4 linked regions of the Homo sapiens genome follow. The protein of the gene in region 4 purifies or fractionates together with the protein of the main gene of each other region. This does not show direct contact. Each region holds a gene or a part of one and is shown on either strand. Other genes may lie near its edges.

Region 1 (3,500 bases), on a different chromosome or scaffold from region 4:
GGTTCAAGCGATTCTCCTGCCTCAGCCTCACAAGTAGCTGGGATTACAGGCGTCCGCCACCACGCCCGGCTAATTTTTGTATTTTTAGTAGAGACGGGGTTTCACCATGTTGCCCAGGCTGGTCTTGAACTCCTGACTTCAGGAATCCACCTGCCTCGGCCTCCCAAAGTGCTGGGATTATAGGCATGAGCCACCGCGCCTGGCCTAGTTTCAACTAGTTCAGTTTGATTTTATTCTTGCTACACTGGATTTGGCTTCATGCTTCAAGACTTATACAAGCTGTAGATTTCCTAAAAGTCTTAAGAAAGAGTAAATTATTAAAACAACCCAATTCATAATTGGAGCTATATATTACATTAGCAAAGGTTTTTTGATAGCTTTTGCAATAGACTTTACTGGCACTAAGTTGTTTTCCCTTTGGGATTTATAGAAGACCCTTGAGTATTCTCAGATGTGTTTGACACATAGAAAGGGGTAGAATAACTAGGGGTTGTTTTAGAAGACTGTATCCTGCTATTTGATTTTTTTTTTTAAAGACCCAGAAATTTAGAAATATTTTTTTCTTCTTCAGATAAAATACTCATTTATTTTTTTGAAGCCTCCCTAATACGTTTACATGTAGGAACCTAAGCTATGTATTTATACTTTAACTTTGCTTTATTTTCAGGTGTTCTGTTCCAGTAGAGCCAGGAGATATCATTCATTTGGAGGGAGACTGCACATCTGACACTTGGATAATAGATAAAGATTTTGGATATTTGATTCTGTATCCAGACATGCTGATTTCTGGCACCAGCATAGCCAGTAGTATTCGATGTATGAGAAGAGCTGTCCTGAGTGAAACTTTTAGGGTAAATAATAGTAACAGTTAATGTTTCTGCAGGGTCTGAGAGTTTTACAGAGCACTTTTACATTTATTATTTCACTTAATCCTCCCAGCAACCCTATAAAATAAATGGTATTAATTAGCTGCATTTTATAGATGAGGAAAATGGGCTCAGAGAGGTGAAGTGACTTGCCCCATAGCCACATAACTATGAGGTGGCAGTGCTAGGACTAAAGGCCAGGTGCCTGAGTCCTTCGAATCTTGTTCAGGGCTTAATAAAATAACTAATTATAATAAGAAAATTAATTTAAATGATAAACTTTTAAATTTAAACACACCTAGACATTTCCAAAGTTGGCTTCATGTGATTCCCACTAAACTAAAAATAAATGTGCAAACTGCTTTTAAAAAATGTATTTTGCTAGAAAAATTAGCCAGGTGTGGTGGCGTGCACCTGTAGTCCCAGCTACTCAGGAGGCTGAGGCAGGAGAATCGTTTAAACCCGGGAGATGGAGGTTGCAGTGAGCCGAGATCATGCTACTGCAGTCTAGCCTGGGCGGCAGAGCAAGACTCTGTGTCAAAACAAACAAACAAAAATGTATTTTGGACTATTTCAAACATACAAAGAGATGATTGTAATAAACTCCCATGTACTCAACACCCAGCTTTTTATTTATTTTTCTTGAAACATGCAGTTTTATTTTAAAATAAAAAGTCTCAAAAAAAAAACGTATTTTGGGGCTGGGCGCAGTGGCTTACGCCTGTAATCCCAGCACTTTGAGAGGCCGAGGTGAGCAGTTCATGAAGTCAGGAGTTCAAGACCAGCCTGACCAACATGATGAAAACCAGTCTCTACTAAATACACAAAAATTAGCCGGGCGTTGTGGTGCGCGCCTGTAATCCTAGCTACTCGAGAGGCTGAGGCAGAATTGCTTGAACCCTGGAGGCGGAGGTTGCAGTGAGCTGAGATCCCACCACTGCACTTCACGGTGGGAGATAGAGGGAGACTCCGTCTCAAAACAAACAAAAATGTATTTTGGGCTATTTCAAACATACAAAGAGATGATCGTACCCAACACCCAGCTTTTTATATATTTTTCTTGAAACGTACTTTTATTTTATTTTGAGTCTCACTGTGTCACCCAGGCTGGAGTGCAGTGTGTCACTGAAGCCTTGACCTCCCAGGCCACCTCAGCCTCCCTAGTAGCTGGGACTATAGGCATGAGCTACTGTGCTTGGCCTGAATATTAAGTTTTAAAAAACTTTTTGGACCGGGCGCAGTGGCTCACGCCTGTAATCCCAGCACTTTGGGAGGCCAAGGCTGGCGGATCACGAGGTCAGGAGATCAAGACCATCCTGGCTGACATGGTCAAACCCCATCTCTATTAAAAATACAAAAAAATTAGCCGGGTGTGGTGGCGGGCGCCTGTAGTCCCAGCTACTCGGGAGGCTGAGGCAGGAGAATGGCGTGAACCTGGGAGGCGGAGCTTGCAGTGAGCAAAAGTCGCGCGGCTGCACTCCAGCCTGGGTGACAGAGCGAAACTCTGTCTCAAAAAAAAAAAAAAAAGGTCTAGGCTAATACAAGAGTTAATCAAGAAATGTAGTGTTTCTTTTTGAGTGGAGAAAAATTCCTTGCCAAAAATCTCTGCTGTAGGTTAAAAAAATTTTTTTTCTTCCCAAACATTACTGCTAAGTAGGTTTACATTTTATGTTTGAATGGTATCTTTTACTTACATGAGTTTATCAGCTATGCCTTTATTGACTTTTCTATTGGGTGGATTATCAAGTGAAATAAGAGAACAATACTTTAAATATTAATTATTTGAGAATATTTTGAATTTTAAAATATTGGTTATTTTAATTTTTTTCAAAATGGAGAACATTGATTTTAAAAGTAATTCATATCAGCCTGGCCAACATGGTGAAACCCTGCCTCTACTAAAAATACAAAAAATAAAAGTTAGCCGGGCATGATAGCACACACCTGTAATTCCAGCTACTTGGGAGGTTGAGGCATGAGAATCATTTGAACCTGGGAGATGAAGGTTGCAGTGAGCTGAGATTGTGCCACTGTGCTCCAGCCTGGGTGACAGAGCAAGACTCTGTCTCAAAAAAGAAAAAAAAAAGGATAACTCATACAGTAATTCAGACAATTCTGGATAGAAGAAAGTGAAAGTCACTTATAATTCCACGCACCAGAAAAAAATTTTTTTAATATTTTGGCATTTGTCTTACCAGTGCATTTTGGCTATGGTGGTTTAATAGATTAGGTAATAAATATACAATTGTGTCTGTTAATATGTTGTGAAATAAACTGTGTGATTTGCTTTTGTAGAGCTCTGATCCAGCCACACGCCAAATGCTAATTGGTACGGTTCTCCATGAGGTGTTTCAAAAAGCCATAAATAATAGCTTTGCCCCAGAAAAGCTACAAGAACTTGCTTTTCAAACAATTCAAGAAATAAGACATTTGAAGGAAATGTAAGTAGTTATAAGAAGAACTGCAGGTATAATTTTATTATATAACTTCTGTCCTAGAAACTATAAAGTATTTGTGTAGACTATCCAATATAAATTAGTGTAATCTAAAATGCAGATTTCATAGTTCTAGTACATTGTTGGAACTCTGTGAAGAGTTTCTGAAATTGCTCAACAGGAACTTTTTGGGTAAAAA
Region 2 (6,350 bases), on a different chromosome or scaffold from region 4:
AAAAAAATTCTTGGCCAGGCGCAGTGGCTCATGCCTGTAATCCCAGCAATTTGGAAGGCCGAGGTAGGTGGATCACCTGAGGTCAGGAGTTCGAGACCAGCCTGGCCAATGTGATGAAACACCATCTCTACTAAAAATACAAAAATTAGCTGGGCGTGGTGGTGGGCGCCTGTAATCCCAGCTACTTGGGAGGGTGAGGCAGTAGAATCACTTGAACCTGGGAGGCAGAGGTTGCAGTAAGCCAAGATCACGCCACTGCACTCCATCCTGAGCAACAAAGTGAGACTGGGTCTCCACACACACAAAAAAAATTATTAAAATGTATGTTGGCAGTTTTCTGCTTGCACCACCAGGTGGGAGTAGAGCACTTCAGGTGCAGGGCCCTTCTAGTCAAGAGGCCATTAAGATTCAAATAGTGACTCCTCTGTCTGCCTCCTCCTCAGATTTATAACCATGAATTTCCGCATTGTGTCTTAAAATATGCCTTTATTAAAACAGCCAAATATAAGCAAATACTAAATGACCAGGAATATAGTTTATGCTTTAAAAGCACAGTTTTAAAGGAAAATAGAATCCTTAAATACTCTGAGATAACCTATTATTCTTTTTAAAATATTTAATGCTGTATTTCTCTTTTCTCTCATGATTATTTTCTTTTTTTTTTTTTTTTTTGCATTTGTTCATCTGTGGGTGACACAAATAGTTGAAAGGTTTAAATTTGCCTGTGTGCATCATCAGTAGGGGAAGTCCATTTGGGGGGTGCACGCTACTCAGCACTGAAATATTTATTCATCCTTCACTCAGCAAGCACCCATGCCTTCTGTGGGCCTGGCATGGGACTAGGCACCAGGAATTCAAAAGTAACTTTCACACAGTTCTAAAGTGGGGTGGGAGAGGGATGAGAGATGACTTTAGAGAGGGGAAGAGGCCTCCAAGACCACAGCAGGAAGAACAGGTTTTAGGTGAAGGGGTGACAAGGAGGAAGGGGTACTAATGAGGTCAGTCCGGGACATAGAGTTTTAGCTGCTTATGAAAACATGTCAGGGGAGAAGTCCTGTGGGAAGCTGGGAATCTGAATCTCCTCATTCATCTTACTTACTTGCACGGTTTATTCTATCTTACATATCTTATACATTTATATATCTATCATATCTACATATCTATCTTATATCTCTTATCTTAGATATTTATTTTATATCTATACATCTATCTTATACACCTTATATATCTATCTTATATACAGACAATGATGTAAATTTCTATACTTTCCAACTCACCTTGCTTATCTTCATTTTGCTCTAGAACCCTTTAAAGCTTAGGTTCTCTAATTTAGGTGAGTTAGACATGAAATGTGTCATATTACTCAGTCCTACAGCTCTTACCTGAGACGCAGTGGTTAAGGGCACAGCTCTGGATCCACACAGAATACGGGCTTTGTAACTCTACCCTGGATCTGTATAGGCAAGTTACCTAACTTAGCCAAACCTCAGCTGACTCATCTGTAAAACGTGACTAAGAGATTATCTAACCTCTGGCTGATCCAAGTATTAAATACAATAATAAATATAGGGCCTAGAACCTGGAATTTCTGTTGGCCACAGCAGCACTAATTCCTGCTACTAAAGTTACTCTCCCATTGACTTCCGCTCAGTTCAGCCTTCCCAGACTCTCACTATCTGTACACAGGTGCGAGAAGACAGATGCATATAGCTATAATTCTTAAACAGTTTACTAGCCCTATCTTTTAAGCATGTGTCTTTTTAATTGAAAGGAATATCCTTCTACTTAGTTCTTTATTCTTTCTTATCAAAGATTTTCTCAGGTAGGAACAACTTGTTGGATGTGCCTATCCTAAACTAAGCTATTTAACCAGAAGTCCATTGCAGCTATCACTAGATTTAGATACTGCCTTTTTAAAAAGATGGCTATTGTATAGCCTTTACAGCAGAATAGAACAATTTGAACAGAAAATTAAATGGGGGTGTTTCATCACAAAGTTGGACACCAGGACTTGAACTAAATTATGGCAAAAACCTGGAATGACTTGCACTCATTTCTTGAGCCCAGAATCAAACCCAGATAGGCATTTTTTTTGCTTAGAATATTTTTCTCCTTTTATTTTTTATTAACAAAACATTTAGTGAATCACTTTGAACCAAGTCCCAAACCTATATATTTTCTAAAACTACTGACCCAGGATTGAACTGAAATTTCATCCAGTTAAAGTCCCCAGTGGAACTTGGGTATTTTACTGGCAAAGCCATTGATCTACCATTTAGCTTTATTGCTTTCAACAGAATTGGGGTGGGAGGAAAAGGCTCAGCTCAGAAAAAAAAAGAAAAAAGAAAAAACAAAGTGCTTCAGTAGGTTCTTAAACCTTCCCTAAATCAATCATTTTCTTTTTATGTGCCAAATTGCGGAAGGTAGATGATGCTCATTCCAAATGCACACAAAATAATTATTCAAACTTGATCTGGGTATTTTTCAGAGATTAATTTTCCAAGGTTGTCATACCTAATGGAAAGCTCTCAAATGAATGGCCATCCAAACCACCTGGTTCTTTGCCCATTGCTGTTTCCTTCACCTAAACTGTGCCTTGCCATCTCAGCCCCTCTTCTTCATCACACACTCTTGCACATCCTTCAACATTCAGCACAAAAGTCACTTTCCTCAATAAGCCTTCTCCAATTCCTGATACAGCTTTTTGCCCTTTCCCCTGTGCCCTCATAGCTCTCCTCTCATACCTCCACTGAAAGCTTTTATGTTACGCGTCTGTCTCCTTCACTAGACTGAATTTTAGAGGGCTAAGACCCTATCTTTTACATTTCCCCATGTCCATTGCTTAGCACAGTAACTGGCACGTGTGCTCAGGGTTTGTTAAATGAATTCATGCATGAACGAGTAAATGCATGGGATTGATGCTCACTGCTGGGTAACAAAACATCTGAAAGATACATTGCTATGAGAGTCATCTTTAAGGAAATATCAACACCTCTCCCCACAATTAACCTGTCTCTCTTACCCACCTGTCCCCATCTTGCCTCACCTTTCAGTCAGGGCAAGCAAAATTGTCACTCATATACAATGAGATTTGAGAATTGCAAATAGTCGCTGCAATTTTTAGAGAAAATTAGCAGTCTCAAATTTTCCAAAAAGCCTACATTTGGAGGAGGCCTTTGTTCTTTGCCCAATTAACAAAAACAATATTTTTTAGAGTTCCTAAACAAACAAGGAAATCCACAGACCCTTCTGCCTCTTACCTTGTCTGGATCCTGGCTGCTTAAGGAAAAGTCATGACACAGAGCTATCTGACACAAAGACTCATGGGAAAAAACACCTCTGAGATGAAGTGACCCTCAACTTCTTATGGAAATTGATTTGGGATCCTCTGAGCTTTAAATTTAAGAATATTAACCTTCTTGTCTAACTTTATCTCAGGGCTATTTCCAAGCTCTGAGATGAAGAGACTTGGCTTCTTTAGATTGTTTCTGGTCAGAACATCCCAGAACCAGGAAGCAACAGAAAATCATTAGCTAATCCCTCCAGTTTTTGAACATTTAAAAACCCCTTTGATCTCCAGTATTTCATTTTATAGGTAAAATAACAAAACTGTTCATAACAAACCTGTAAAGAAGACAGGGCAGAAATTATAACCCCATCTCACAATGGTCAGAGAAAGGTGGACTGACTTGTATAAGGTCACTGAGTACAGAGTAAGATCTAAAACTCAGGTCTTCTGAGTGCCAGTTTGATGCTTTGGCATTTATAGCACATCACTTAGTTCCCATGTATATAACTAACTAGTTGATATGGTTTGGATCTGTGTCCCCACCCAAACCTCATGTCAAATTGTAATCACTAATTTTGGCGATAGGGCCTGGTGAGAGGTGACTGGATCATGGGGGCGGATTTCCCCCTCGGTGCTGATCTTGTGATAGTGAATGAGTGCTCATAAGACCTGGTTGTTTAAAAGTGTGTGGCATCTTCCCCTCCCCTTCCTCCTGTTCCAGCCATGTGAGACATCTTGCCTCCCCTTTGCTTTCTGCCATGATTGTAGTTTCCTGAGGCTTCCCAAGAAGCTGCTATGCTTCCTGTACAGCCTGCAGAACCGTGAGACAATTAAACCTCTTTTACTTATAAATTACCCAGTCTCAGGTATTTCTTTACAGCAATGCAAGAATAGACTAATACACTAGTCTTCCAAACTGAAACAGAAACTCTCCCAGGAATTTGCTTGAGTAATACTTCTCTTGTCTGTTCCTGTACCCCAATTCCTGGCACAGAACTCAGTAAGATAAAAATATGATTGATTAAGCTAACCCACTCTTAAAAAATAGCTCTTAGGTACCTTTCCCTCTTTCCCAGGTGGGTAGATGCAGTGGCAAACCTCACAGTAAATGTCAGCTGGTTCCTTTGTGGCATTACCTGAGTGGCAAGCCAGGACAACTGTAAACAGTTCTCTTGGGTATGCACCTTGTTACCAATTGCTGCTTTTCCAAGCTACTCAACTATTAAGTCACTGATTTGATGTAGTTCCTCCTTTCTTGTGATGTGTGCACACAGCTTGAGAGCAGCAATGACTAGATCAGCTTCATTTGGGGCTACCTAGAAGTGGGAAAATGCTCATCTCAACTGGTCTGTCTGTAAGAGTTGAGGATTGGCAGCCCTTTCATCCCTTGCTTCGATACTTCCCAATACCAGCCTGCAGATGGAAGTTTAGCCCACATTGTCCTCTCAGACAGAGATTGTAAGGACTTCTAGAAATGGCCAAAATTGGGAGCTTCCCAAGGGCAAAAACAACACCTCCATCACTGTAACTCAATAAATACTGAACAAATGAGATTCCAAATTCATTTTAAGAGCAGATACGGCTTGCCCAATATCATATAATGAATATTTGTATGTAAATATGTTGATTCTCAACACTAGATTAATTTCAGTCCTTTTTCCAAATAACATTAGCATTTTAAAAAAGGGACTCTCCTGTCTTTATTTAAAAGAATAATTTAATGGTGGGAATTGTGTCGAGCTTAAAAGGAATAATAAGTTGACAGTAGTCTCCCCCAGGTAGATCTGGCTGTAAATGGAGGTTTCCTCTAAAAGAGTTGCTAGTGATCATTTTGTGGGACAGTGGATTGTCTCATCTGTTCTCATTCCATCCCTCAGAGATAGGGATCACTGGAGGTTGGGTCATCTACTGCTGTCATTTTGGCAGCCCGTTTGCACAATTGTTCTGCATGTTTTATGAGTGATTTCTCAGTGTTACTGTTTTGGTTGGGCTGGTGGCTTGTCTCTATTTCCCTGATAATGAAAATATTAGGGAGTATATTTACCTACAGAGACTTAATTGGCATCATAACTCACTGTCCTGGCTCATTCAGTGTCCTAACTTTTTCCAAGAAAAGAAAAAGCAGAAAAAAGTGCTCATACCTAACACACTGACGTTGAGGATGCCTTGGTTTTGGCCGAGAAAGTCTGGGGGGTTGTTAACATCGCAGATGTAAATTCCACTGTCTGCTGGCTGCATATGCGAGATAGTGATAGATGCATTACCTGGATCGTTGGACCCTGTAATTCGATCTTTAAATTGCCCGATGGCTACAGCTTGTCCACCTTGAGAAAAGTAAATCTAGACAGAAAAATAACAGAAGTGAGAACTGGAGAGAGTCCAGGACTAGGATAAGCTACCTGAAAGCTTCTTCTAAACACATTACCTTTGATAAAGAAGCAGCATCTTCCCCCCACCAGGAACAGGTCCCTGTGGCCAAGGTTTCTCAACTCAGTGGGGCACTTTAGTTTGCTCACAGCTGCGCATTTGGCCCTCAGAGCAGCTCTGTGATGTCATCAGGGCAGGGATTAGTATGCCTATCTTACAGAGGAGGAGGCAGCTGGAGCTGACAGGATTCAACACCTAAGCTTGGGCTAGGAGATCAAGATGCTCACTTAATGAATCCACCTGAGAGAAACTCATTATGTAGAACACAAATGTCTGATGGGAAACCAAAACCATCATTTTTTTTTTTTTACCATTTTATAAACTTCTTAAAATTTGAATTTACCTTACCCAGTGAGACTATCTGGTTTCCTTAAATGTTCAAATGTTCATGCTCCTTTTAGACACACCTACTCTTTTGGATAGACAAACTTGGGTTTGTTTTGTTTATTAGAAGCAAAGCGGAAAAGCATCTTAGAAATCATCTGGTCCCATCCCTTTATAGTGGTGTTGTGAAGATGAAACTAAGAAATCTAGTAAAGGACCTCGGAAGTGCTCAGCCAATGATAGCTACCATCTTTCTCCCCATGTGGCAGAAGGCAGAACTGGAATTCTTCTGTCATTTAAACAAATAAGG
Region 3 (6,392 bases), on a different chromosome or scaffold from region 4:
CACTTCAAAGCCTTGTGAGAGTTCCCAATTTCATCCCAAATCAAAATGAACATTGTTCATCCAACCTCTACCAAGAGCAATTCTCAAGTCTGGGTGGTCGGAATCACTGGTGCAGCTTGCTAAAATGCATGTGCCTGGGCTCTGACTCGAGAGTCACCAACAGTAGTTTTCAATGCTGAATGCATCATAGAATCACCTGGAGGCCTCAGACGAGCTGAATCTTTGGAGGGTAAGGCTTGCAAACTTGTTTTTAAATGGCTCACTAGGGTAACATGTAGCTTGAGAACCACTGTGTTAAGAGTATAAATGCCTCAAAGGGAGGCAGAGGCCCTTATTCCTTTGAAATTGAATTCATCACCACACTCAACTAAGCATTCTCCAATTCCCAAATATTTTCAATCTCACAAGTATCTTTAACCACTCTCTCTTCCCACATACCCTGAATCTGGGCAACTCTCCCTTCATGTGCTCATCTGGATCCATTTTTAGTCCTATGACTAAAAATGATAGTCCAATTTCCATGTCAAGACCCTAGCACCTCATCCCCCAAGTTACTCTGCCTGGAACACATAGTGAACTATTGTCCTGAACTTCCTGGTACATAATTTTCTCTTTTTTTTTTTTTTTTGAGACAGGGTCTCACTCTGTCACCCAGGCTGGAGTCCAGTGGCACATTCTTGGCTCACTGCAGCCTCCGCCTCCCAGGAGGATCAAGCGATCCTCCTACCTCAGCCTGCCAAGTAGCTGGGACCACACGTACACGCCGGTACACCTGAATTTTTGTATTTCTTGTAGCGACAAGATTTTGCTACGTTGCCCAGCTGGTCTTGAATTCCTGGCCTCAAGTGATCTGTCTGCCTTGGCCTTCCAAAGTGCTGGGATTACAGGAGTGAGCCACTGTGCCCAGCCAATTTTCTCTTTTTTTGTTTTTTTGAGACAGAGTCTTATGCTGTCACTCAGGCTGGAGCACAGTGATGCAATAATGGCTCATTGCAGCCTTGAACTCCTGGGCTCAAGTGATCCTTCTGGCTTCAGCCTCCTGAGTAGCTGGGACTACAGGCATGTGCCACCATACCCAGCTAACCTTTTTTTCTTTTGTAGACACAGGGTCTCATTATGTTGACCAGGCTGGTTTTGAACTCCTGGGCTCAAGCGATCTTCCCACCTTAGCCTCCCAAAGTGCTCGGATTACAGGAGTGAACCACCACAACGGCGACAATTTTCATATCTTTTTTTCTTTTGAGATAAAATCTCATTCCGTTACCCAGGCTGGAGTGCAGTAGCATGATCTTGGCTCACTGCAAGCTCCACCTCCCGGGTTCAAGCAATTCTTGTGCCTCAGCCTCCCAAGTAGCTAGAATTATAGGTGCGTGCCACCATGCCCGGCTAATTTTTGTAATTTTAGTAGAGATGGGTTTTGCCATGTTGGCCAAACTGGTCTCTAACTCCTCACCTCAAGTGATCAACCTGTCTTGGCCTCCCAAAGTGCTGGGATTACAGGCGTGAGCCACCATGTCTGGCCAACAATTTTCATTTTCAGATCACATGCATTACTCTTTGGTGTTTTTGATCCTTCCTTTTAGTGCTCAATTAACATCTGTCGAGTAAACAGTGACTGCTCCAATAATTTCTTTCATCTGAGGGGTTAATGATCCTCACCCACTGCTGAACTCAGTCACACTGGTCATTTGGTCATCCCATTCTTCTTTTTTTTTTTTTTTTTAAAGACAGAGTCTTGCTCTGTCGCCCAGGCTGGAGTGCAGTGGCGTGATCTTGGCTCACTGCAACCTTTGCCTCCCGGGTTCAAGCGATTCTTGCCAGGGTTCAAGCAAATCTCGTGCCTTAGCCTCCTGAGTAGCTGGAATTACAGACATGCACCACCATCCCCGGCTGATTTTTTTGTATTTTTAGTAGAGACAGGGTTTCACCATATTGGCCAGGCTGGTCTTGAACTTCTGACCTCAAGTGATCTGCCCCCCTAGGCCCCCCAAAGTGCTGGGATTACAGGCATAAGCCACCGTGCCCAGCCCCCATTCCTTTCTACCAACTTAAATCCTATATTTCTTCAAGTCTTGGCTTAGGACTCTACATGCAGTCTTCCTTGGTTCCCTCACTGCAAATATTTACTTTAAACACGCTGAAAGATTGTTAATTATATAAAGGGTATACTGTAAGTAGTTATTTAATTAAGTCACTCCTCCAAACTACTGGCCACCCTAGGCCCTCTACATACACAAAAACTGATAACCTTCAGCAGCAATGGCCAATATGCCAAAGAGTCTCTCTGATTATACCTAAAGGGTTGGCAACATTCCCTCAAAACCACGGACACACGATTATTTAACTTTTTTAAAAAAAGTATATGCCACAACTAATCATCAACAAATCAACTAGACAGTTTAAGTAGATTTAACACCAATGCAACCTTGCTCCCAGCATATATTCTATGGTACACATAGCATTTTCATATTAGTCAATAAGTTCACTGAGTCACATATGATTTTGAAATTTTCCTGAAGGGAGAAACAAATGGGGATGCTGCCTGCGAATAGTTAATTTGACTCCTTATCTTATTAAAATCAGTGGAATCAGATGTTTTTAATACAAACCTTCACTGTTTCCTTAATCTTCCATACAATTTGATTTTGGAGGGATGCTTCACAGAGAATATAGTCGGGTGCAATGCAGGTTTGGCCACAATTCATGTATTTTCCCCAGGTTATGCGTCTGAGGGGAAAACATCCAGAACAGCTATATAATTCAGTAATTCAGTCAAATATTCATTTGTTACATTGTGTTGTTTGAATGTCTTGCAACTAAAATAGATTCATATATTTATCTGGCAATTTTTATAAAAAAGTTAAAAACTCATTTCTAAATCAGTTGTTTGGAACTTAGAAAGTATTTTCCAAATGAGGTGGAATATTTTACATAGCAGGGAAGTTCTCAGGCCAGCTCACGGCAAACAGTACTTGGTAAACAGTGAAGCCATTGCCTGCTGCAGGAAAAGAGGAGAAACAGCCTCCCAATGTCCTTTCCCCTCTTCCAGTCCAGCCAAAGGAAAGTCCTGGATGACCAGAGTTCGGTACAGACTCTCCTGGTTGTGGCTTTTGGCTCTGCCTGCAAGATGTTCAGGTATAAAGCAGGATGTCAGCCAGCCTCCAAGGCCATCCTCCTCTTTGTGGAGCCCTGCCCCACTTGGGAAGACCTTTCCTATGCATGGGCAGAAACCCATGCCCTAAACATTCACTAACTGAGGGTGTCTGGTTTTGACAAATGGATTTCTACTTAGGAAGCCAACCTGGAACCCTGACCTGGAATCTCTGAAGGGCAGAGAAAGCCACACCACCCAGAGCACAGAGTCAGTTCTATGATTTGGCACTTCTTAGTAGCTAAACCGGATTTAGCAGAGAGAACCTGAAACCTCTTATTTTCTAATTTTCAGATGCAAGATGTTATTCACAGTTAAAAAATGAGGAACACTTGTTTTGCCCACAAAGGATCTCAGTTAAGATATCAGCATAATACCCTCTCAAATGGGCATTTAAAGATTTTATTAGGCACACACAATACTTTGGATTATGTACTTCACAGATCACTGGCCAGAAGAACGTTAAAATTTCTTGCTAGATCTAGCTGTAATCTTGAGAACAGATATAACTTTTTTAAAATTCCTAAGGACAACCACATGATGTCAGGACTTACAGCTCACCATTTTTGACAGTGGCGCCAAGAGACAGTGAAAGACTCCTGTTACTCTTGAGGACATCAACCACCAAAGCTTAATAATGTATCTTGGAGCCATAAGGTATGGGGTTCAAGTACAAAGAGTAACATTGTCAGGAAAAGTCTCCATTGTGCTGGGAAAACCTCAGAAAATCAGAGAGCCAGACTCACCTGCAAACAATGTCCAGGTCACAATCTTTATCAATATAACATGGACTTTTCCCTCCCAGTTCAAGAGTCACAGGGGTCAGATGCTTGGCAGCAGCTTCCATGACAATTTTGCCAACCGCAGTGTTTCCCGTATAGAAAATGTGGTCAAATCGCTGCTTCAGGAGCTCCGTGGTTTCCTCAACACCACCATTAATAACAATATAGAGATCCTCAAAGAAAGAGAAACACAAACTCTTGCACTGCCAAATAAATCCTAACGTCTAACATCAGCAATCTCTTCAACATAAACATGTAACATTCAGTAAAACCCAGAGAGTGTCAAGACCAGTCCCTGTGAGGGATGGGAGAGGGAACTGACCAAGGACAAGAGGAGAACACACAGTCCGATGGCATCTGGGAAGCATGAACCCACATAGAACTAATCTGGAGACTCCAGTGTTTTTTTACATGAGCTCAGCAACAAAGACACTAAGGAGAACAAATGGTTGAATTTGACCAGGGAAAATGCATGAGACGCGGGTGTGTGCAGAAGTGCCTCTGGTGAAGAGTGGCTCCCACAGGACAGGTCATGCATGTCTTAGTCTGAATGTTCTCTGTCTCACAACACAGAGTGGGCTTAGCCCACGCTATTCTGAATGAATGGTATATCCGGCACAGTAGCTGAGAGCGCTTGCTTTTGAAGTGTATCTGGTTTGAATCTGGGCTCTGCCACTCACTAGCTTATGCAACCTTAGGCAAGCTACTGAACATCTCTGAGCCTCAATTTCCTCATCTGTTACTGGGAGAATTCACGTAGCTTCTGTGGACTGAGCCCATCTATGCATTGTGCTATCATTACCAGCTATTCTAAGAGAGAACATCTTGGACAATAACAGCATCAAAAGTAAGAGAACAGATGGCAAGCAAGGAAGACAGAGAGGTATTCAAGACTCCAAGGTGGAAGTGTGAAGTAAAAGCTGGCTTGTGGATCTCATGTTTCCACTTGAAGGCGAATTAATTTCATTCACTTCATGGTTCAGCTGCCCAACAAATGTTTCAAGCTTTAACTTTTCTATGGCTTAATCTACATAGCATATATTATTGATCCCCTAACACGGTAACTGAAGCTGGTAGAGCATTATTATCCTCCTTATCCGGACAGAGTCAGTTATTGAAGAATTTACCCCTGGTCAGGGGCAAAGCGGTACCTTCAACCTCTATCTTCTGGTTCTACGTCCTATTCAATCCTTGACATCTCACTGTCTTCCATTTCATCTTTCTTGATTGGATCATCACAGCTATTAGAACAAAATGGCTCTAACAAAGAGAAAAATATCATTCCAAGAACCAGAACTGGCCTCAATCCATCACAAGTTGATGTACAGAATACAGGTAAGATATTTTTAAGCTGTATTTCGCTTAAAGCTAAATGAAGACTCCTCCCTGTAGCAACTGCATGTAGAACTCAGCAGTGCCAATTTCTTCGCGGCATCATAACTTCCTCCCCAGGAAGGCATAAGAACCTCTGACTCAGACAGATGAACTACCCGCAGTTGGGCAGATCATTTTCTTTATTCAGTTCTTGATATTCTTAAATGCCAGCATGTTAAGTCAGTGTGAGGATCTGCCCTCTAGTTCAGGAGGGCACTTTTTGTGTATGTGTGGCATGTTTTCATGCCACAGACATGTCTTTTTTGAAAGCAGAAGTACTCTTATAGGCTGGGTGAGAGGTGAGAGCGTGCGGGCAACCCTTGCTCGCTCTCAGCACCTCCTTGGCCTTGGCACCCACTCTCGCCACGCTTGAGGAGCCCTTCAGCCCACAGCTGCACTGTGGGAGCCCCTCTCTGGGCTGGCCAAGGCTGGAGCCGGCTCCTTCTGCTTGTGGGAAGGTGTGGAGGGAGAGGCGCAGGCAGGAACCGGGGCTGCGCGTGGCGCTCACAAGCCAGAGCGAGTTCTGGGTGGGCGCAGGCTCAATGGGCCCCACACTCGGAGCAGCTGGCCGGCGCCGCCAGCCCTGGGCAATGAGGGGCTTAGCACCTGGGCCAGCTGCTGAGGAGGGTGCCCCGGGTCCCCCAGCAATGCCAGCCCACCAGCGCCACACTCGAATTCTCGCCGGGCCTCAGCCACCTCCCCGCAGGGCAGGGCTCGGGACCTGCAGCCCGCCATGCCCAAGGCCCCCACCCCGCCCCTGGTGGGTTCCCATGCTGCCCGAGCCTCCCTGATGGGCGCCGCCCCCTGCTCCACAGCGCCCAGTCCCATCGACCGCCCAAGGGCTGAGGGGTGCAGGCGCGCAGCGCTGGACTGATGGGCAGCTCCACCCACAGCCCCGGCGTGGGATCCACTAGGCAAAGCCAGCTGGGCTCCTGAGTCGGGTGGGGACTTAGAGAACTTTTATGTCTAGCCGGAGGATTGTATATGCACCAATCAGCACTCTGTGTCTAGCTTGGGGTTTGTGGATGCACCAATCAGCACTCTGTATCTAGCTAATCTGGTGGGGATTTGGAGAACTTTTATGT
Region 4 (6,392 bases):
CTGTTTCAAAACAAACAAACAAACAAACAAACAATGCACAGGCAGGCTTTATTCTTTCTCTCTGCGTGTCTGCAGGATGCCAGTCTATGAGGACCAAAAGCTCATTCCCTGGGAAAGGGAGTCAGCTCTAAATGGGTTTTCTTCACCTCTGATTATTCTCTCCTGTAACGGAACCCTTGGAGAGCCTCTATTTTCAAGTTATTTAGAAAATGAGACCTCTTACTTAAAAAAAGTCATGTGGTATTAAATGTCTTCTTGTCCTCAGAATATTAGGTTAGTGCAAAAGAAATTGCAGTTTTTGTCATTACTTTTAATGGCAAAAACTGCAATTAGTTTTGCACCAACCTAATACTTCTTAGTCATACTTCCCCTCAGTTCTCCAAGCCAAGAAGCTCTTATTTGAACCTATCCTTAAAAAAGTGTTTACAATAGCAGCCCGTGACCTGTTGCAGCATCTCAGCCCCTTCCTATTGTTTCCTCTCAACTCTGAACCTCAGTCCCACCTTGCGGCGCACTGGAACCACCGTCCTCACGTCATGTATGAAGACAGTGAGCAGCTCTGGACTGTCTGTTACCTGCCACCTCTGCTGTGGCTTCAGGATGGTGATGGAGTTCCATCCCGGCCACATCCTCTTTAGGATGGAAAATCCCAGCTCCTCTGCTTGTTGAACCAGAAGACTCTGATTACCTGGAACAAGCCGTGTCTCCAAGGGTGGTGTCGGGGCTCCTGGCAAGTGGAGATGAGGCCTTCTGAAAGATGGCGCTGGTATTTTCCATGCTGCCTGGAAGGTCTGCATGGTAGCATGTGTTAGGGGTAACAAGTTTGGGGCGGTGGCGGGGGTGGATCCACACTGGAGAGGGAGAATACTAGCATGTGAAACATCTCTTCCCACCTGCGAGGAGACAGAGCTTCAGGTGCAGCAGACTCTCTTCCAAATTGGAGATGACTGCTCTCGGCAGGCACTCTGGAACAATAAACATAATAACGTAATTTGACATTCCCCACTCTTTGGGGAAGAGAATACACCTATCATAGCCATTTTCAAGAGCCAAGAAGGAGGGCAGCCATAGCAGGGGAAGGCGGGGCCTGAACTTCAAAGGAGACAGGGCTGGTGGTTATGAACACAAACAGCCTTTCCGTTTTCAAAGCTCCACGGAATTCTGTGAAAACAGCAACTTTTGCACCCTCTAATTTTCTTCTTTGTGCTCTGATTAGCATCGAGCCGTTCTCCCTTTGCAATTCAGTAGCCTCTTGAAGGGTGTTTGTTTGCATGATAGGACTGATGGGCAGGTCCTGGCTAGTGGCCTGTCACTTGCTTGCCACCCAGGGCGCCACCACAGAGTGCCCCAGTGAGCTCCCTCCAGCCATGCGCAGTACATCAATCTGAATGAGGGGCTCAGGCCATTGATTTTCTTCCACCGCCCACCCCCGTCACCAAATGCCAATTATTTATCTCCGTTTCAGAAACGAAGTTCTTAATTTAAGCCAACAGCTGCCTTACCTGTGAAGAACACTTTCTTTGGGTGTGTTGAATAACATCTCCCTGGAGGAGGAGGATTTCCTTTCCTACATGCTTCAGAGAATGGCCAGCTTGATTCCTTAAAGGACATGAGCTTCATCCTTTCCCAGACCCTTCAAACTTAACCCAAATGACGTCATAGTTGACACCCTCAATCTCAAGATAGAGTCTGGTAATCTCTTATATTTGCGTAGTACTTTATAATTCCCAAAGTGCCTTCACCTCCAAAACTTCATTTAACCTTTACAACAATGGAGGAGGTAGGTTGGGCAGGTATTAGTGTTTCCAGAAGCAGTAGCCAAAGCTCAGAGAGGTTAAGCAACTTGCCCAAAGTCACATGGCTGGCAGGGCAGGTAGCAGGGTACGACCAAAAGTCTTTGGAACTTTGGTCTGGGACTCCTGACATTCACTGTACCATGAAGACCCTGCCTCCTACTCTAAAATGATTCTGTGATTGTAAGGAGCCAGAGATAATGCCACTTATTGGACTTCTCACTTAGGGACTTGCAGTCCACAGGTGACCCTGGTTTAGAGTGACCCTGGGGCAACTGGAAGGGAGCGTTGCCTCTGGGGATGGGGTGAGAGTACAAGGTGGGTTAGGGAAATCAACACATTTGCATCAGTCAGGGTTCACTGTAGAAAGAGAAGCCTGTGCTTTGGCACCTTTAGCAGAGAACAATCTAACCCATGGAACAGGGTGCCTATAGCACCACCAGATGGGCTGGAGGAGGGTGCCAGAGGGACCCCCAGGAATGATTCCCAGAATGATTCACGCAGAGTTCTCCTAACAGGGGAGACACCACCTACCACTCACCCCACTGAATTTAACGGCACATGCAGTGGCTGCAGGCCAGGAGTCAGCTGCAGGCCACCAATGATGCCAATGCAACTCTCTCTCAGCACTCCACAGCTGGAAAAACGGAGCTGAAATGCTGCTACCAACAAATCTGATGTTTCTAGCATATTGCCAGCAGAAAATAGCAAAAGGGGTAGGAAGTGGCATTAGATTGGCCACTAGTTCCCATCTAGAATCGTTGCTACAAGGGAGTCTGGGCAATGTGGCTTTTTGTGAGATGGTTTCTAGCTTCTACAGAACAGGAAAGAACATTCAAAGGAGGGTACAATGGAAGTCGAGTAAGCCAGTGCACAGAGCCCACCACAGCAGCCAGCCTAATGCCCACTCTCTTGTTACCCGTGAAAACCTGAAATGCAAACACTCTAAAAATGAGTACTTGATTCTGAAGTGGATACATCAAAGGTCTTTATTAGCATAGGAACAACACACGGTGTGCATCTGTGTGTTCCCCAAATGCACACAAACCCTGTCTCTCTCAAGAATCACTGATGTATTTCATCGTAGAGTTGAGAATTTCTAGGCCATGAAGCTTTCTCAGTTGAGCAGCAAATCTGTCACAATCAAAACAAACAACCCAGGGCATAAGTGCCACGGTTCAGGCTTCTGGAGCCCAGAGCCAACACCCTCTCAGATGGAAGCTGGCTGAGAACGTCAGTCCTATCACTCTGGGTGGAAACAGGAAGTGGCTGTGGCATTGGGGTACCCTAAAGATCACAGGGGTAAGTAAGACCCTCAGGGAGGCCCACAAAGCACTGAAAACACTCGCTGCAGGTGGCAGGTGTGTCAGGCTGATCAGACAGGACCTTGCTCTCGAGAACTCCCCCATAGGTTGCCACTTTGAAGTCATCCTAGCTAATGTGCTTTCTTTCTATAGAAGAAAGATTTTAACTATTCCTTCCATTTGAACAACCAGACAGAACTTGAAAGGACCTTAGATATTATCAAGGCCAACCCCCTCAATCTACAGAGGAGGAATTAAAGGCATGTGGATGTAAGGGAAGGAGCCTCTCTCACTCAGCTCCCGGGGTTACCCTTGCTCTATGCCAGGGCTCCTTTGCTCAGCCACAGGTGGACACCTCCCAAAAGCACGTGCAATGAGATGCGTCTGCACATCAGAAGAGGAGCAGAGCAGAGTGGAGGTCTGAGCTAACAGAGAAGCCATGGGCACAGTTACAGCCCACATCTCTTGCCCTCGCTCACTGGGGACCTCGGCATGCTGTTCTGCGTCTCTCCTTCTCCACTGTTTTCTCCTGCATGAACATGTGACCCTTGCTGGCCGTTCCTCCATTTGTTTAGGCTGAGGCAAAGAACATGAAGTGGGGGGTCTGTTTCTGGAAAAGTGGAGAAGAGAGAAAAGAGGGAAGAGAAGGGGAGGTGGAGTGGGAGGGAGGGGAAGAAGGAGGATAAAGAGACAGGGAGAGGGATGCAAAACAGTGGAGAATGGAATGGAGAGAAGGCAACGGCAGCAAGTGGGAGCAGCACGTCCCTGTCAGACAAGCCGATTCCCTCTCTGGTTGGAGACCGAGAGCTCCCCAGTTTCCTCTAGAAAGGCTTTCTTCAGAGAAGCAGCTACTGGGCTTAACCTAGGTCTGCACAGAAAGCATGAGGGCTTCCCACACTGTTCTGTGTGGCATGCAGTCCCAGCCAAAACTCAGCACCTCAGCTCAGCTGCTCTTTCTGCAATAGGTCAGCCTGGCTCCGTGTCCACAGCATACCTGGGCTCAGCTGTGCACAGCTTCCCCAGAGCAATGCCTGCGTTCACCTGCACGGCCGTCTTCTGTGTGTCACTGCCTGCAAGCTTTAACAAGACCTGCAAAAGGTCCGTCTTTAGCAGGGAAGACGCAACGTTGGGCACCTCCATGCAGTTACCAAGGCAGAGGGCAGCGTTGCCCACCAGAACCTCATCCTCCGAGCTGAGCAGCTTCATCATAACGCTCAACTCTGCAGGGAAAGAAGAGAACAAGCAACAGCTCCTTTTAATCCCAAAATAGGAGGCTGGCAACAGGACATGAGGGGTGCAGGGAGATGTCAGCGGACACCGAGCTTCCCCAGTAACTCTGCAGCAGAACTTGTTCACTTACTCATCAGCAAACATTCACTGAATGCATATGAACCTCCTCAACTCCTTGCTGAACCTCTGAAGTATCTCCGCTTCCTAGAACAGTGCCCAGCACAACACAGTTGTTAGATGAATGAATGCTGTGTGTCAGACAGGTCTGTCTTCTTGAAAGCCTATTCTTAACCTCTCACTGCGCCAGGGTGAGAGGTCTTATCTGACAGCCCCCAGGTGGAGGCAATGTGCCAGCAACCTACACCTGCAGGGTATGCAACAGGATCCAGGAGAAAGGCTTGCCGCTTCCATGGTGGAGCCTCCTTCAGTTCACCTTCTGTGCATTCCAGGGAGTTGGTAAGAAGAACATTAGCAGGCTGCCTCTCCTGGGAAGCCTGCTGTGAATAACTACAGCCGGTTTAAGTTACTGGACTAAACCTAGGCTCAGACTCTGATATTTCCCTTGTTCACTAAACGTTGACGGTGTTTCCCCCTCTCCTTCTGTGAAGGCAGAGAACTGAACTTGGTGAGAGGAGGGAGTTTCCTAGCTTTGACCCTGTTATCTTTGAGCCATCTGTCAGCTGGGTCTCCAGCCTGGGCATTCTACCTGTGTGCATCCAAAAGGTTAATTAAATGCTTTCAGATCTGGATGTGAAACATCTTCTGTAAACATTGCTGAAGTCTGGGAGAGGTTAACAGCATTGCTGCTAAGTTCCTCCTCGACCACAGTTCCCTTTGCAGCTTCAAGGGTGGATGAACCTCTGGGACAAGGGCTCCCTTAAGGAAATCATCACTTACTTTTATCCAGTCTTATTACTTCTTCCCGAGCTTCATGATAACTATTCGTGCAGATAGCTAGTATCTTTATAGCATAACGTGATGCAGTCTCACCTCCTGTCTAGATTTCAGAATGAAATTAGAAAAATAAAATCAGTGCTATGATTGCTCTTGACCACAAACCACAGCAAGCAGTTATTATAGCGCTAGTGGCTTCCTAAACTCTGAAAAGAGAATTCTACTGAGAACGGCATGTGCTTCCTGGTGGGCAGGCATGGTCCCTGCTGGAACAGAGTGTCACCCGCATCCTCTCTAACCCAGCCCACACCCCTGACAGGAATGTAGGCCTGTCATGTACACCTGAGTAATTGCCTCCGGAAGGCTTTATGAGCAAGTGGCTGAGAAGAGAATGATGCTGATGAATGGCAGATCTACCAAAAAGGGAGGAAAAGGCCCTCCCATGTCATTTTCCCATTTGAGAACGAGGACTGACTTGCTAAGGCTGTCAGGCTGACAGTCCTGCATGAGGAACTTCAGGAACCTACATCATTTTAAGAGATGACAACTGTCAAACACAGCCCTTGCAATCACCCATGTGGGGTCTTTAAAAGGCATGTGTGCACGTATGCACGTGTGATGCATGGGTATGCATGCCATCAGGAGCTTTTGGTGGGTTTGCAAAAGTTATAATGAATGACAGTCATTGTTCAAGTGGCAATCTAAACTCAGACCCCCTGTGCTGCCCCCTCAGTGTCACCCCTGCCCTAGCAGCAGCCCGCAGAGCATGCTTCCCTGCGCCACTCAGCCTGATGCTTTATGAATAAAAGCCATGTGTCACCACACTAACATGGGTGTATGGACCTCATGGGCACACACATCATAGGTGGGATTCTGAGATGGCAGCCTAGTGTATTAATCCCCTTCGCCCTTGCAGGTGAATCCAGATAACTGCTCTACTGGCTTGCTTAGATTCACCACACTCATCTCACAGGGAAATCCCAACATCCTTTGGTCACATGGTAATTCTGCAGGCTACATGTCTCATAGATGGAGTTCCATCCAACACTCTCCAGATAACTGTATAAAGCATCATGAGTAGCAAAACCTGAGCAGAACAATGTGCCTGAGAAACGTTACAGAAAGCCACTCAGATCATTTTTATCAAGAACAGTGGCCATATATTTTTAAG

What was found.
Region 1: the proteins of TTC12 (region 4) and DNA2 purify together in Homo sapiens (affinity purification with mass spectrometry; one large-scale study listed by BioGRID and IntAct). This does not show direct contact.
Region 2: the proteins of TTC12 (region 4) and VSIG1 purify together in Homo sapiens (co-immunoprecipitation; one large-scale study listed by IntAct). This does not show direct contact.
Region 3: the proteins of TTC12 (region 4) and ALDH3A2 purify together in Homo sapiens (affinity purification with mass spectrometry; one large-scale study listed by BioGRID and IntAct). This does not show direct contact.

Annotation. Positions count from the first base shown.
Region 1 is NC_000010.11:68,465,474-68,468,973, reverse strand, and holds part of DNA2 (DNA replication ATP-dependent helicase/nuclease DNA2), read left to right. Parts: intron 1-667; coding exon 668-851; intron 852-3,161; coding exon 3,162-3,307; intron 3,308-3,500. UniProt on the Homo sapiens protein: Key enzyme involved in DNA replication and DNA repair in nucleus and mitochondrion.
Region 2 is NC_000023.11:108,066,215-108,072,564, reverse strand, and holds part of VSIG1 (V-set and immunoglobulin domain-containing protein 1 isoform 2 precursor), read right to left. Parts: intron 5,630-6,350; coding exon 5,431-5,629; intron 1-5,430.
Region 3 is NC_000017.11:19,654,080-19,660,471, reverse strand, and holds part of ALDH3A2 (aldehyde dehydrogenase family 3 member A2), read right to left. Parts: intron 5,194-6,392; exon of another isoform or gene 5,085-5,193; intron 4,107-5,084; coding exon 3,898-4,106; intron 2,728-3,897; coding exon 2,610-2,727; intron 1-2,609.
Region 4 is NC_000011.10:113,362,760-113,369,151, reverse strand, and holds the end of TTC12 (tetratricopeptide repeat protein 12), read right to left. Parts: intron 5,325-6,392; coding exon 5,225-5,324; intron 4,318-5,224; coding exon 4,092-4,317; intron 2,928-4,091; coding exon 2,852-2,927; 3' UTR 2,765-2,851; downstream 1-2,764. UniProt on the Homo sapiens protein: Cytoplasmic protein that plays a role in the proper assembly of dynein arm complexes in motile cilia in both respiratory cells and sperm flagella.